Linked DNA regions of Homo sapiens. The protein of the gene in region 1 purifies or fractionates together with the protein of each later gene. This does not show direct contact. Each region holds a gene or a part of one and is shown in the gene's direction. Other genes may lie near its edges. The genes, in order: FAM9A, NAF1 and ACAD11.

Evidence for each region.
Region 2: the proteins of FAM9A (region 1) and NAF1 purify together in Homo sapiens (affinity purification with mass spectrometry; 3 studies listed by BioGRID and IntAct, with this or other methods). This does not show direct contact.
Region 3: the proteins of FAM9A (region 1) and ACAD11 purify together in Homo sapiens (affinity purification with mass spectrometry; 3 studies listed by BioGRID and IntAct, with this or other methods). This does not show direct contact.

Annotation. Positions count from the first base shown.
Region 1 is NC_000023.11:8,799,276-8,803,028, reverse strand, and holds the start of FAM9A (protein FAM9A), read left to right. Parts: upstream 1-1,645; 5' UTR 1,646-1,718; exon of another isoform or gene 1,719-1,789; intron 1,790-2,819; 5' UTR 2,820-2,857; coding exon 2,858-2,948; intron 2,949-3,753.
Region 2 is NC_000004.12:163,142,786-163,146,438, reverse strand, and holds part of NAF1 (H/ACA ribonucleoprotein complex non-core subunit NAF1), read left to right. Parts: intron 1-574; coding exon 575-657; intron 658-3,653. UniProt on the Homo sapiens protein: RNA-binding protein required for the maturation of box H/ACA snoRNPs complex and ribosome biogenesis.
Region 3 is NC_000003.12:132,653,241-132,656,893, reverse strand, and holds part of ACAD11 (acyl-CoA dehydrogenase family member 11), read left to right. Parts: intron 1-2,223; exon of another isoform or gene 2,224-2,464; intron 2,465-3,653. UniProt on the Homo sapiens protein: Acyl-CoA dehydrogenase, that exhibits maximal activity towards saturated C22-CoA.

The DNA of each region.
Region 1 (3,753 bases):
TTATATGTTTTATTTTATCTTATTTTATTTATTTTATTTTATTTTGAGACAGAGTCTCCTTGTGTCACCCAGGCTGGAGGGCCATGGTGCGATCTTGGCTCACTGCAACCTCCGCCTCCTGGGTTCAAACGATTCTCGCGCCTCAGCCACCCAAGTATCTGGGATTACAGGCGTGGTGCCACCCAGTTTTTTTTGTAATTTTGGTAGAGACGGGGTTTCACCATGTTGGCCAGGGTGGTCTCGAACTCCTGGCCTCCAGTGATCTGCCCGTCTCAGCCTCCCAAGGTGCTGAGATTACAGGCATGAGCCACTGCACCCAGCCACTTACATGAAACATCTGACTGCATTGCTGAATTCAAAATATCTGAATATGTTATACAGAAAAATGTTTTGGAAATCTAATGAAAATTAATAACGAAATACAATGTTCTACTTACAGTCATTGTTGACTTATCTTAATAATTTGTTTGTTTTGTAATGTGACAAAATAGATCTATATTGTTCATCTTGTCAAAAATATTTATGTGCAGAACTGTATTTTAAAACAAGCAAGTACAAAAGGAAATAAATTAAAGTACACGAATATTTTATTACCTCTCAAAATAGCCTGACTTGAAAAGACCATCACTCCATGGCCAATGGATCTACTTGATCCTGAAATAACCGAGAGTGGGGTGTATCTGTTACTATCAGCAGGTCAACCTTACAGCAACAAGAAGAAAGGCCTTTGACAACCTGATGGTCACTCCTGGGATTTCTATGGCTAACTTAAGTGGCAAGAACTAGCAGGAAACTAGTTGACTTTTTTTGAAGAAAGAAATGACAAAAGTTTCTCAATCAGTACCTTTTAGTCATCATTTCTTGGAAACAACTATACATCATACAGTTGATGCCTTTAAAGACACGACTTTGGGTATGGGCTCAGTGGCTCATGCCTGTAATCCCAGCACTTTGGGAGGCTGAGGCAGGTGGATCACTTTGATGTCAGGACTTCGAGACCAGCCTGGCCAACATGACGAAACCCCGTCTCTACTAAAAATACAAAAATTAGCCGAGAATGGTGGCACGCACCTGTAATCCCAGCTCCTTGGGAGGCTGAGGTGGGAGAATCGCTTGAACCCGAGAGGTGGAGGTTGCAGTGAGCCAAGATCTTGCCACTGCACTCCAGCCTGGGCGACAGAGAGAGACTCCGTCTCCAAAACAAACAAACAAGCAAGCAAAAAACATAAAAGCACAATCCATTGATAAAAAGGGTGCAGCTGGACATGGTGGAAACACACAGGGCATGGGAGGGAGCCTGGGCTCCACCTGCAAGGCGAAGGCCATTCTAGCCAAAGGGGCAGGGGTGGCTGGAAGGAGCTCGGGGGCGAGGTCCTAGGCCCCGTCCACTTGGCTTCCATCCCGAGTCCTTGCATCCCTCCCCAGGAGGAGGCGCTGAAAACTTCTGGGGACAGAGGCCCCAAAGAACCACCACCCACCCCAGTCCACAGCAAATATGGGTGGTCCCTTACGGAAAGAGGGAAGGCGTGTCAGCAGGGGTCGTGGCCCCCAAGGTCCTTCACCCGCATGCGCATGCGCACTTAGCTGACCAATCAGAGAGGAGCGTGGATAGCCAGGGCAGCTGCTCTCGCGAGAACTGAGGACCCATTTTTCTAAGAGAGCGTCGTGGTGCCAGTGCCTGCAGGTTCTGTGAGGAAGCGGCATCAGGGGTCCCTCAGGTGAAGCGCTCGCGGTGGGGAGGCAGGAAGTCGAGCATGCGGCCCTCTCGCAACCAGGGTGTGAAGCGCAGGTGAAGCGCTCGCGGTAGGGAGGCAGGAAGTCGAGCATGCTGCCCTCTCGCAACCAGGGTGTGAAGCGCTGAGCGGCCGGCTGACCTGCACACGGGCAGCCCGAGACCCCTGGCCCCTTCTTGGCTTTGGAGTCCACCATGCACGTGCTAAGAGGCCCCAGGTTTTCAAAGCAGGAAATGGCCCTGGCATCGTTGCCTGGGGCCTGGGTCAGGGCGAGGCCCTGAGGGTGGGCTGGGATGGGCCAGGGCAGGGAGGGAGCTGGAGACACCTGAGTGATCCCCAGGGCCCAGGAGTGTCCCCGGGACTTGTGCATGTGTGCAGTGGGTAGGGGTGGGGCAGGGGAGGGGGGCTTGGGGGAATGGAGGGGGTGGAGAGGGGAGCAAGGGAGGGGTGGTGGCAGAGGGTGGAGGGTCGGGGAAGTGGCAGACAGGCAGGGGCCGGGTGTGGGGCCAGGGATGGGGGCAGGGGAGGGGAGGGGTGTGGGGTTCGTGGGGTGAGGGGATGGGGGAAGGGGAGGAGGAGGGGCGGAGTGTGTGGGGAGGCGACAAGCAGGGGTGTTGTGGGGGACAGTTCGAGTGGGTCCCTCCAGCCCGGCCGCCCGTCAGGACAGGACACTTGGGGTCACGAGGGGTCACCTGGGCATCCAGGCAGGCAAGTGGCAGTGCAGCCCCTGACATTCCCCCAGAGATGGCTGGGGAGGTCCTGTGACACCCGTGGTCCTCCGGGCCACGCAGGTCTCTGGGGCACACAGGGGCAGGGCTGAACTCTGTCCCAGGGACACCGCAAGGATCCTGCAGGGGCCATTCAGGTGTGCGAGGCAGCTGTGAGTTCTGCAGCCAGCCCCAGGGACGGGCTGGACGGGCCACGAAGGATAGGAGGGGACACTGGCATCTTCTCCGACCCCTCCTGCTCCCACAGGATACACGGGGTGGGCCAGCCCCACCCTTTCTTGAATCCGAGATCCCGTTGGCTCTCCTTTCACATATCCTGTTTCCTTAGCTTACTTAGTTTGACTTTGCACTCAACCAGGTTCAGGGATCGCCTCTAACTTCCCAGGACAGCCAACCATGGAGCCCGTGGGCAGGAAGCGCAGCAGGAAGGCTGCCAAAGCTCAGTTGGAAGCTCAAGTTACGGCCGCCCAGGGGGCCACGAAAGAAGGTGCACGCCCAAGGAGATGGTCTGTTTGCTCTCTGCGCGGGGGGCACATGGGCAGCCCGAGACCCCTGGCCCCTTTGTGGCTTTGGAGTCCACCATGCACGTGCTAAGAGGCCCCAGGTTTTCAAAGCAGGAAATGGCCCTGGCATCGTTGCCTGGGGCCTGGGTCAGGGCGAGGCCCTGAGGGTGGGCTGGGATGGGCCAGGGCAGGGAGGGAGCTGGAGACACCTGAGTGATCCCCAGGGCCCGGGATTGTCCCGGGGACTTGTGGATGTGTGCAGTGGGGAGGGGTGGGGCAGGGGAGGGGGGCTTGGGGGAATGGAGGTGGTGGAGAGGGGAGCAAGGGAGGGGTGGTGGCAGAGGGGGGAGGGTCGGGGGAGTGGCAGATAGGCAGGGGCCGGGTGTGGGGCCAGGGATGGGGGCAGGGGAGGGGAGGGGTGTGGGGTTCGTGGGGTGAGGGGATGGGGGAAGGGGAGGAGGAGGGGCGGAGTGTGTGGGGAGGCGACAAGCAGGGGTGTTGTGGGGGACAGTTCGAGTGGGTCCCTCCAGCCCGGCCGCCGGTCAGGACAGGACACCTGGGGTCACGAGGGGTCACCTGGGCATCCAGGCAGGCAAGTGGCAGTGCAGCCCCTGACATTCTCCCAGAGATGGCTGGGGAGGTCCTGTGGCACCCGTGGTCCTCCGGGCCACGCAGGTCTCTGGGGCACACAGGGGCAGGGCTGAGCTCTGTCCCAGGGACACCGCAAGGATCCTGCAGGGGCCATTCAGGTGTGCGAGGCAGCTGTGAGTTCTGCAGCCAGCCCCAGGG
Region 2 (3,653 bases), on another chromosome or scaffold:
AAAAGAACTGGAGATTTGGAGATTATGTTTTTGCTTTTTGAGGAGGGAATTTTCATGTAATGATAAAAATTACTGTGAGCTCTAGCACTTTTACTTCTTCTGTTCATAGGAAGATGCTTTTGTGAAGCCTTTTATTTAACTTTTTCATATACCAGTAACTAAACAGTGCTTTGTAGAAAAGAATTTTTAAGAGTGAGAAAGAAGACTAATTTCTTCTAAAACAGTTTTACAACTAAACGTGATTACACTATTTTTGGTAAAAATTACTTGAGAATATGTACATAGCTTGAATTTGTTGAATCTTTAATGGATGATTCAGATTTTCTGTGGGATTTGCATTTTAATTTTTTTCCCTTAGAATTATAGCTTTTTGTATTAAAAATAGGTATAAAAACATTTCCCAGTGCTATTTGGTAATAAGTAGACTTTGTTTACTGAAGAGAAAATGGTTAATGAGGTAATAATCCCACCTTCAATTTTTTTTTAAATTATGTTGGAATTAAAGCTTAGATTTTCATTAAAATTCTACATTCTCTTATAAGTAAATCTTGAAGTAATCTATTTTATTTTTCAGTAATAATTGAATCTATGACTAACCTACCTCCAGTTAATGAGGAGACTGTAATTTTTAAAAGTGATCGACAAGCAGCAGGAAAGGTTTGTAAAACATTTCAAATCTTACAAATTATTCTATTTATTTATTGTTTTTTTCTGACTTTCCCCATCAGTTCTCAGAAGAGTTTATTTATTTTAATTGATGGACAATCTAGAGCTCTCTAATTTCAGTACGTTCTTGATTTCCTTTAGTACTTCATATCTGTCTGTAAATTGGTTTAATACTGATTATTACTCTTTGCCACATGAGTTATTAAATACACATATATAGAATTCTTTCCTAGTGTTTGTCAGATAACTTGCTAGGCAGTGAGTCTACGTAATGCATAACACATCGTTTCCTACCGTCCAGATACTCAGCTGAGTGAAGAAGACTTCCCATAGTATAGTAGCTCTTAAGCATTTTTGTTTTGTGAGCTCCTTTGAATAGTGGCTCTCAGACTTTTCAGACTTTGACTTCCTCAGGTGGAAGCTCGGTGTGGAATCTTTTCCAAGTGGAAAAATATTTCACTGACAGCAATGAATTGTCACTGTAGGCACATCCTGGGGAATTACAAATATGTGCATTCAAGTAATTACTATAAGATTTGGTCCCTTTTAACATCTTTCTAATGGAACAACCCTGCATGTCCACCTTAATGTAGAAAACTGTGCACTTTACTCAGCAACTAGGCAATTCTGACTGGTTGGCAGAAGACATAAACATTCTAAAATCAAGAATGTAAATACTAAGTAAGTATTTATTTCCTGGCAATAGGGACAGTTTTATTCACCTTGATATTCCCCATTGTATCTAGTACAGTTCTTTGTAAATTATTTGTGCCAAGTAAATGTGTATTGAGTTGAATACAAACAAATAAGAAAGGAGCTATTTGTGATTTTCATGACAGTTGTCTTTTTTTCTTAGTACCTAACTTAGACAATTTTAATCTGAAAATACTCAACACTTTGCTAAATTAAAACCTCTAAACAGACATTTTTTTTGTATTTCCCACTACATTTGAATTTCTAGACCTGTAAATGTGACTAATATTAATATTCAGCTGTCATTTAGATTTGAAAGGAGTCAGATAAAATATAACATTTACACCTCTAACTTTAGTTATATGGCATAAGCCTGTTGGCAAAAATTAAATCTATTTCTAAATTTTACATAGAATGCTTTATAAATGCTTTTGAAAGACTTTGTGACAAGTTTTTAAAAAATACTTGATTATAAATCTAAGTGCCTTGAAATGATTCTCCAAAATAGTAGTGGGAGTAGAGATTAGAAAGTATTTGTTAAACAAACCAATAACCAGAATATGAAACTGAGTACCTTTTAGATTATTAGCATGTCTTATCTAAATACTAAATTAGTTTTACCTTCAGTAGCAAGCCATCGAACATCTTTTCCCTCTTTTCTTCAGTAACACGATAGTAATCAGCTACAGTGATATTTATGTTATCTTTTTAAGTTCACTGAAACCCTGCAAGGAAGTAAAATTACCTCTATTTTAAAACTTGAGAAACCTTGCTAAAAAGTCACAAAGCTGAAATGGATGAGTTTACAGCCCAGGTTCATTTCCCTTCCACCTCCCTTTGCCTTCCCCACTGATTAAGGGAGGACAGTCTCAGATTTTTATTCCTACCTTTGCCCTTTAATCCTAAGAATTGCTAGTTCCCTTGATGAACTAGTGAAATCTGTTTCCTTCTCATATATCAGTGGGTAGGAAATTTTTACTGATTCCTTTTTAAACGATTATATTACTGTCTTGTTTGGTAGGATGTGATGATTTTCTAGAGGACTCTGTATTATATTGATGGAGTGTTGTTCCCCACCCCCTCAGTTCTCATGACATATTTCAAGGTAACTTATGATACAGTAATACACACAGTGATTGAAATGATCAGTTTGCCTAACTAATAGATTAGAATACTCTATTCGTCTGTATTTTCTTCATTTTTGTTGATGGGAATTGAAAAAAGCACAAAGTGATTGATAAAAGACAATGTTGAATAGTTGTAAAGGTTCATTTCCTCATTTCCTTTCTCCTTTGGCAGTTTAGCCCAAAGCTGGCTCACCTAGAGAGACATTGTTTGAAGGCTGTTCCCAGGTGGCAGCATGCAGACCTTGGCCCTTCACAGGCACAGCCTGCCAGCATTGTTCCTAGGCCTGGAGATCCTTGATATATTTATTGTTACTTAGAGAAACTAGGATTTACCTAGTCCCCTCCTAGATAATAGAAAAACTGGGAGTTACCTAGCCCCCTCTAGATAACTTAGTAAGTTTGTGACATGGTATGTGTGTGGAGAGGGGGAGGAGAGTACAGCTCATTCTCCCTTTTGCTGTATTGTCTGTGCACCTCCAGCCTGCTGGCTCAAACAGGCCTTCTACGCCGCTGAAACTTTTGCCATGGTGCACACAGAACATTTAAGCCCAGCCTACGCTGGGATGGAATTTGGGGAACTGCATGCACTCTATATCTTCTCTGCTTGTCAGTTATTTTTCCCAGCAGATCCTACATTATAGCTGTACCACGTTGTTGTTACAGTGTGTGTTAACCTCTGTGTGTGATAGGAATCCTTGGAGATCTTGTAGCAAAAATATAATGACTTTGAGTAAAAAATGGTGAGTATTATCACCTAGAGCCAAGTGAAAGGATACCTAGAAAACCACTTCTCAATGACAGGGCAAGTATAAAGCATCAGTTGGATTAAATTTTTATATGAACACCTACAGAATATATACTAGTTTTAAAGATATAAAGAAAGCTGCTTGCCCACCTCATAGTAAAGGTCTCAGGTGCTACTTTTCCAAATTCAGTTTCTTATACTCTCCTTACAATCTATTACTTCCTTTGCTTTTATCTTGAATCAGGTAGTATGGAAGTTCCAGAATCCCCTAAGTTGGGTGGAATGACCAAGAAGGGATATGGGTGCCTCCTATGGAGCTGTATGAGGAGAAGTGGGCCGGCCTGAGCCTTGCTGTGTCTTAAGTTGCTCTTTACAGTTTAGCTCTCAGGTGTTAGTCAATCTAAACTCTACACTCAGAGGCT
Region 3 (3,653 bases), on another chromosome or scaffold:
TTATACTGTAGTAATAAGGGAAATGCAAATTAAAAAAAAAAAAACAACACAATGAGAAACCATTTCACACCACCAAATTGACTTTTAAAAAATCTGACAATAGACTGGGTGCAGTGGCTCATGCCTGTAATCCCAGCACTTTGGGAGGCTGAAGCAGGTGGATCACCAGAGGTCGAGTTCGAGACCAGCCTGGCCAACATGGTGAAACCCCGTCTCTACTAAAAATACGAAATTAGCTGGGTGTGGTGGTGGGTACCTGTAAATCCCAGCTACTCGGGAGGCTGAGGCAGGAGAATTGCTTGAACCTGGGAGGCAGAGGCTTTAGTGAGCTGAGATCACAGCACTGCACTCCAGTCTGGGTGAGTCAGAGGCAGACTCCGTCTCAAAAAAAAAAAAAATCTGACAATATCAAGCATCAGGATATGGGGCAACAGGGACTCATATAGGGGTGTGAATTAGTATAGCTGCTATTGAAAAATAACTCAACATGATCTTGTAAAAATGAAGTTGGGAAGATACACATGACCTATGACCTAGCAGTTCTACTCATAGATACATACTCCTGAGACTTTTCTTGTACTACAGTATAAGGGGACAATCTACAAAGATGTTCATTGTACTGTTTGTAATAGCAAAAATCCAGGAAACAACACAATGTCTATAGATACAGAATGGATGAATAAATTGCAGTATATTCACATAATGGAGTAGCATACAACAGTGAAAATGATTCAGCTACAGCTGTACATAACACAGAATGAAAAACGTGAAGAAATTAACAGTATATTATATACAGAGATAAACTTCAAGGGAATGATAAATATAAAATTCAGAATGGTAGTCACTCAAGGGGAAGGACATACAGGGTTTCAAAGACAGTAATTTTCTCCGGGTAGTGAAAATGGTGTTTGTGGCATTACTATTCCTCATGCCTTACCAATTTCATAAATACTCTTTTTATCTGCAAGATTTACTTTTAAAATTTGCAAAAATTAAATCTTATTGGAAAGATAAAATATTTAGAATTAATCAATAATGAAAGTATTATATAGCTTGATACAACAAAACTTGTGATTTGCAGCTGAGTGCCTAATATGTATCTGGCACTGTATCAACCACTGAGGATGTAACAATAATCTTGCCTCCCTGGAACTTCCATTGTATTTGTAGAAGACAGACAGGAAAATCAGCTTCTGAACTTTACAATGTAGAAGTTGATATGTAACATGGAGGAAAAGAGAATAGGAAATGTTTGGGTGTGGGGCAGGAAGATTTCCTCGAGCACACGGCATTCAGCAAAGACTTGAAGGGGGATGAAAATGTGAGCCATGTAAATATCCAGGAAAAGAGTGTTCCAGACAGAGGGGACTGCTAATGCAAAGGCCCTGGAAGGGATGTGTGCCCAGTGTGTTGAGGAAACACAGCCCAAATGCCTGAAGTAGTGTAAGCAAGGGCAACAGGGACCCTGTCAGGCAATAAAGAGACTTTGGCTTTTACTTTGAATTGAGATGGAGAGAGACTTAAAACATGCTTGAGCAGAGGAGGGAAGTAATCTTTAAACAAACAAACAAACAACAACAACAAAAAAAACAGAATCTCTGCTTCTTGTGTTGAGAGTTGACTGAAGGGGCCAAGGGCAGAAGCAAGGACACCAATGTATTACAGTGTTCCAGCAGGGAGATATCAGTGGCATAGACCAGAGTGGGAGTGTAGAATGGGTAAGAAGTGGTCATAGTGTAAGTATATAGTCACATGCTGCATAATGACGTTTTGGTCAATGACGGGCTGCATATACGGCAGTGGTCCCATTAGATTATAATACTGTGTTTTTACTGTACCTTTTCTATGTTTAAATGTGTTTAGATACACAAATGCTTATCATTTTGTTACAATTAATTGCCTGCAGTATTCAGTACAGTCACATGCTGCACAGGTTTATAGCCTAGGAGCAGCAGGCTGTACCACAGAGCTCAGGTGTGTCCTATCGGGTTCAAATCAGCCTATTTATGCTAACTCCAACCAGCTGAGAAGTTTCACAACGAATCAGTGCCAATTAAATGCTTAGGAATTCACGATTTATTGTGTGGCTTCTACACAACAATCATGTAACTCTATCCAACACACATAGGCATTAATAGAGAAGGGAAACACAGCAAGTATTCTGGGAGACCAGCACACTGACTGAGAAAACCAGGTTTGGTTTTCCTCAGAATGCCCACTGACCTGGTGGTGGGTAGCTGCTCTTTTCCCAGAGGGCTTACCACAGCCAAAGGAAAGGAGGCCTCAGAGTTCTCATGGGCAGAGATTCTGCAGGCATCTCAGCCATGATTGGCTTTTACGGCTCTCCACAGACATCTCCATGGCCATTATCTTCAGCTGACTTTTGGCTTTACTTTCTTGTCAGGTGTCAGGGATGCCTGGCCACAGCAGATGCTATCTTATCACCTCAGTCCACCACACATATGCTTACTACTCTGAGTGGTCAGTGATTTCACTGTAAGCTGAGTCACTTGTCATAAGTGACTCCATTATGAGACATTTATGATCATAAAACATAATTATATATCAGTGCATAATAGGCTATACCATCTAGGTTTGTGTAAGTGCACTCTAGGATGTTTACACGTGACAAAAATCACTTAACAACATATTTTCCAGAACACATCCCTGTCATTAAGCAATGCATGACTGTATTTTGAAGGGTTTACTAACTGATTAAATGTGGGCTAGGAAAGGAAGAGACGAAGATTATTTCATTTCTGCCTTGGTAACTGAAAGAATAGGGTTATTGTGAACTGAAATGTAGGTGACTATAGAAAAGCAGATTTGAGGGGGAAATTTGAGGAACTCAGTTTTGGAGTGTTAAGTTTCAAGATGCCTTTTAGACATCCAAGTAGATATGTATAGTAAGCAGTTGGTTATGTCTTGAGGTCGGGGCAGAGATCTGGACTAGACATATAAATTTGAGAGCCATCGACAAAAAGAAGATATTTAAAGACATAAGATCGAAGGTCTTACTTAGAAAATAGTTCACATAAAAAGGAGGTTTGGAGACTGAGTCCAAGGCACCCCAATATTAAGAAGTTAGCAAATTAAGAGAAACCTACAAAGGAGTCTTAGAAGAAGTGGCCAAAGAGGTGGGGGAAAACCATGGTTTGTATTAGTGATCTTGAAAAAGTAGTATTAATGGAAAGAAGGGAATGAAAGCTTGATTGAAATGGGTTTAAGAAGATAGGAGGAGGACGTGTAATCTCTTGAGGAGTTTTTCTACGAAAGGAAATAGAAATGTTTTAAGTAGGGGGGAAGTGAGGTCAAGAGAAAGCTTTTTAAAAAATAACATCATATTTGTATGCTGATGACAGTAATCTAGAAGAGAAAATTTTGTGTAGGAGAGAGGCCTGGAAAGAAGTCCTTAAGAAGGCAGGACTCTAATATGCAAGAGAAGGGGTTGCCCTTAGATAGAAATGTGCACGTCCTTCTGCAGACTTTGGAGGGAAGACAGAATATATGTGTACAGATTATTGTATGCAGTAGATACAGTAGTGTAAGCTTGTGGAAGTTCTCATCTGATTGCTCCTATTTGCTCGTTGAAATAGGAACCTAGGTAATTAATTAGCTGAGAATGAAGATGGAGAAGAAAGTGTTTGAGGTTT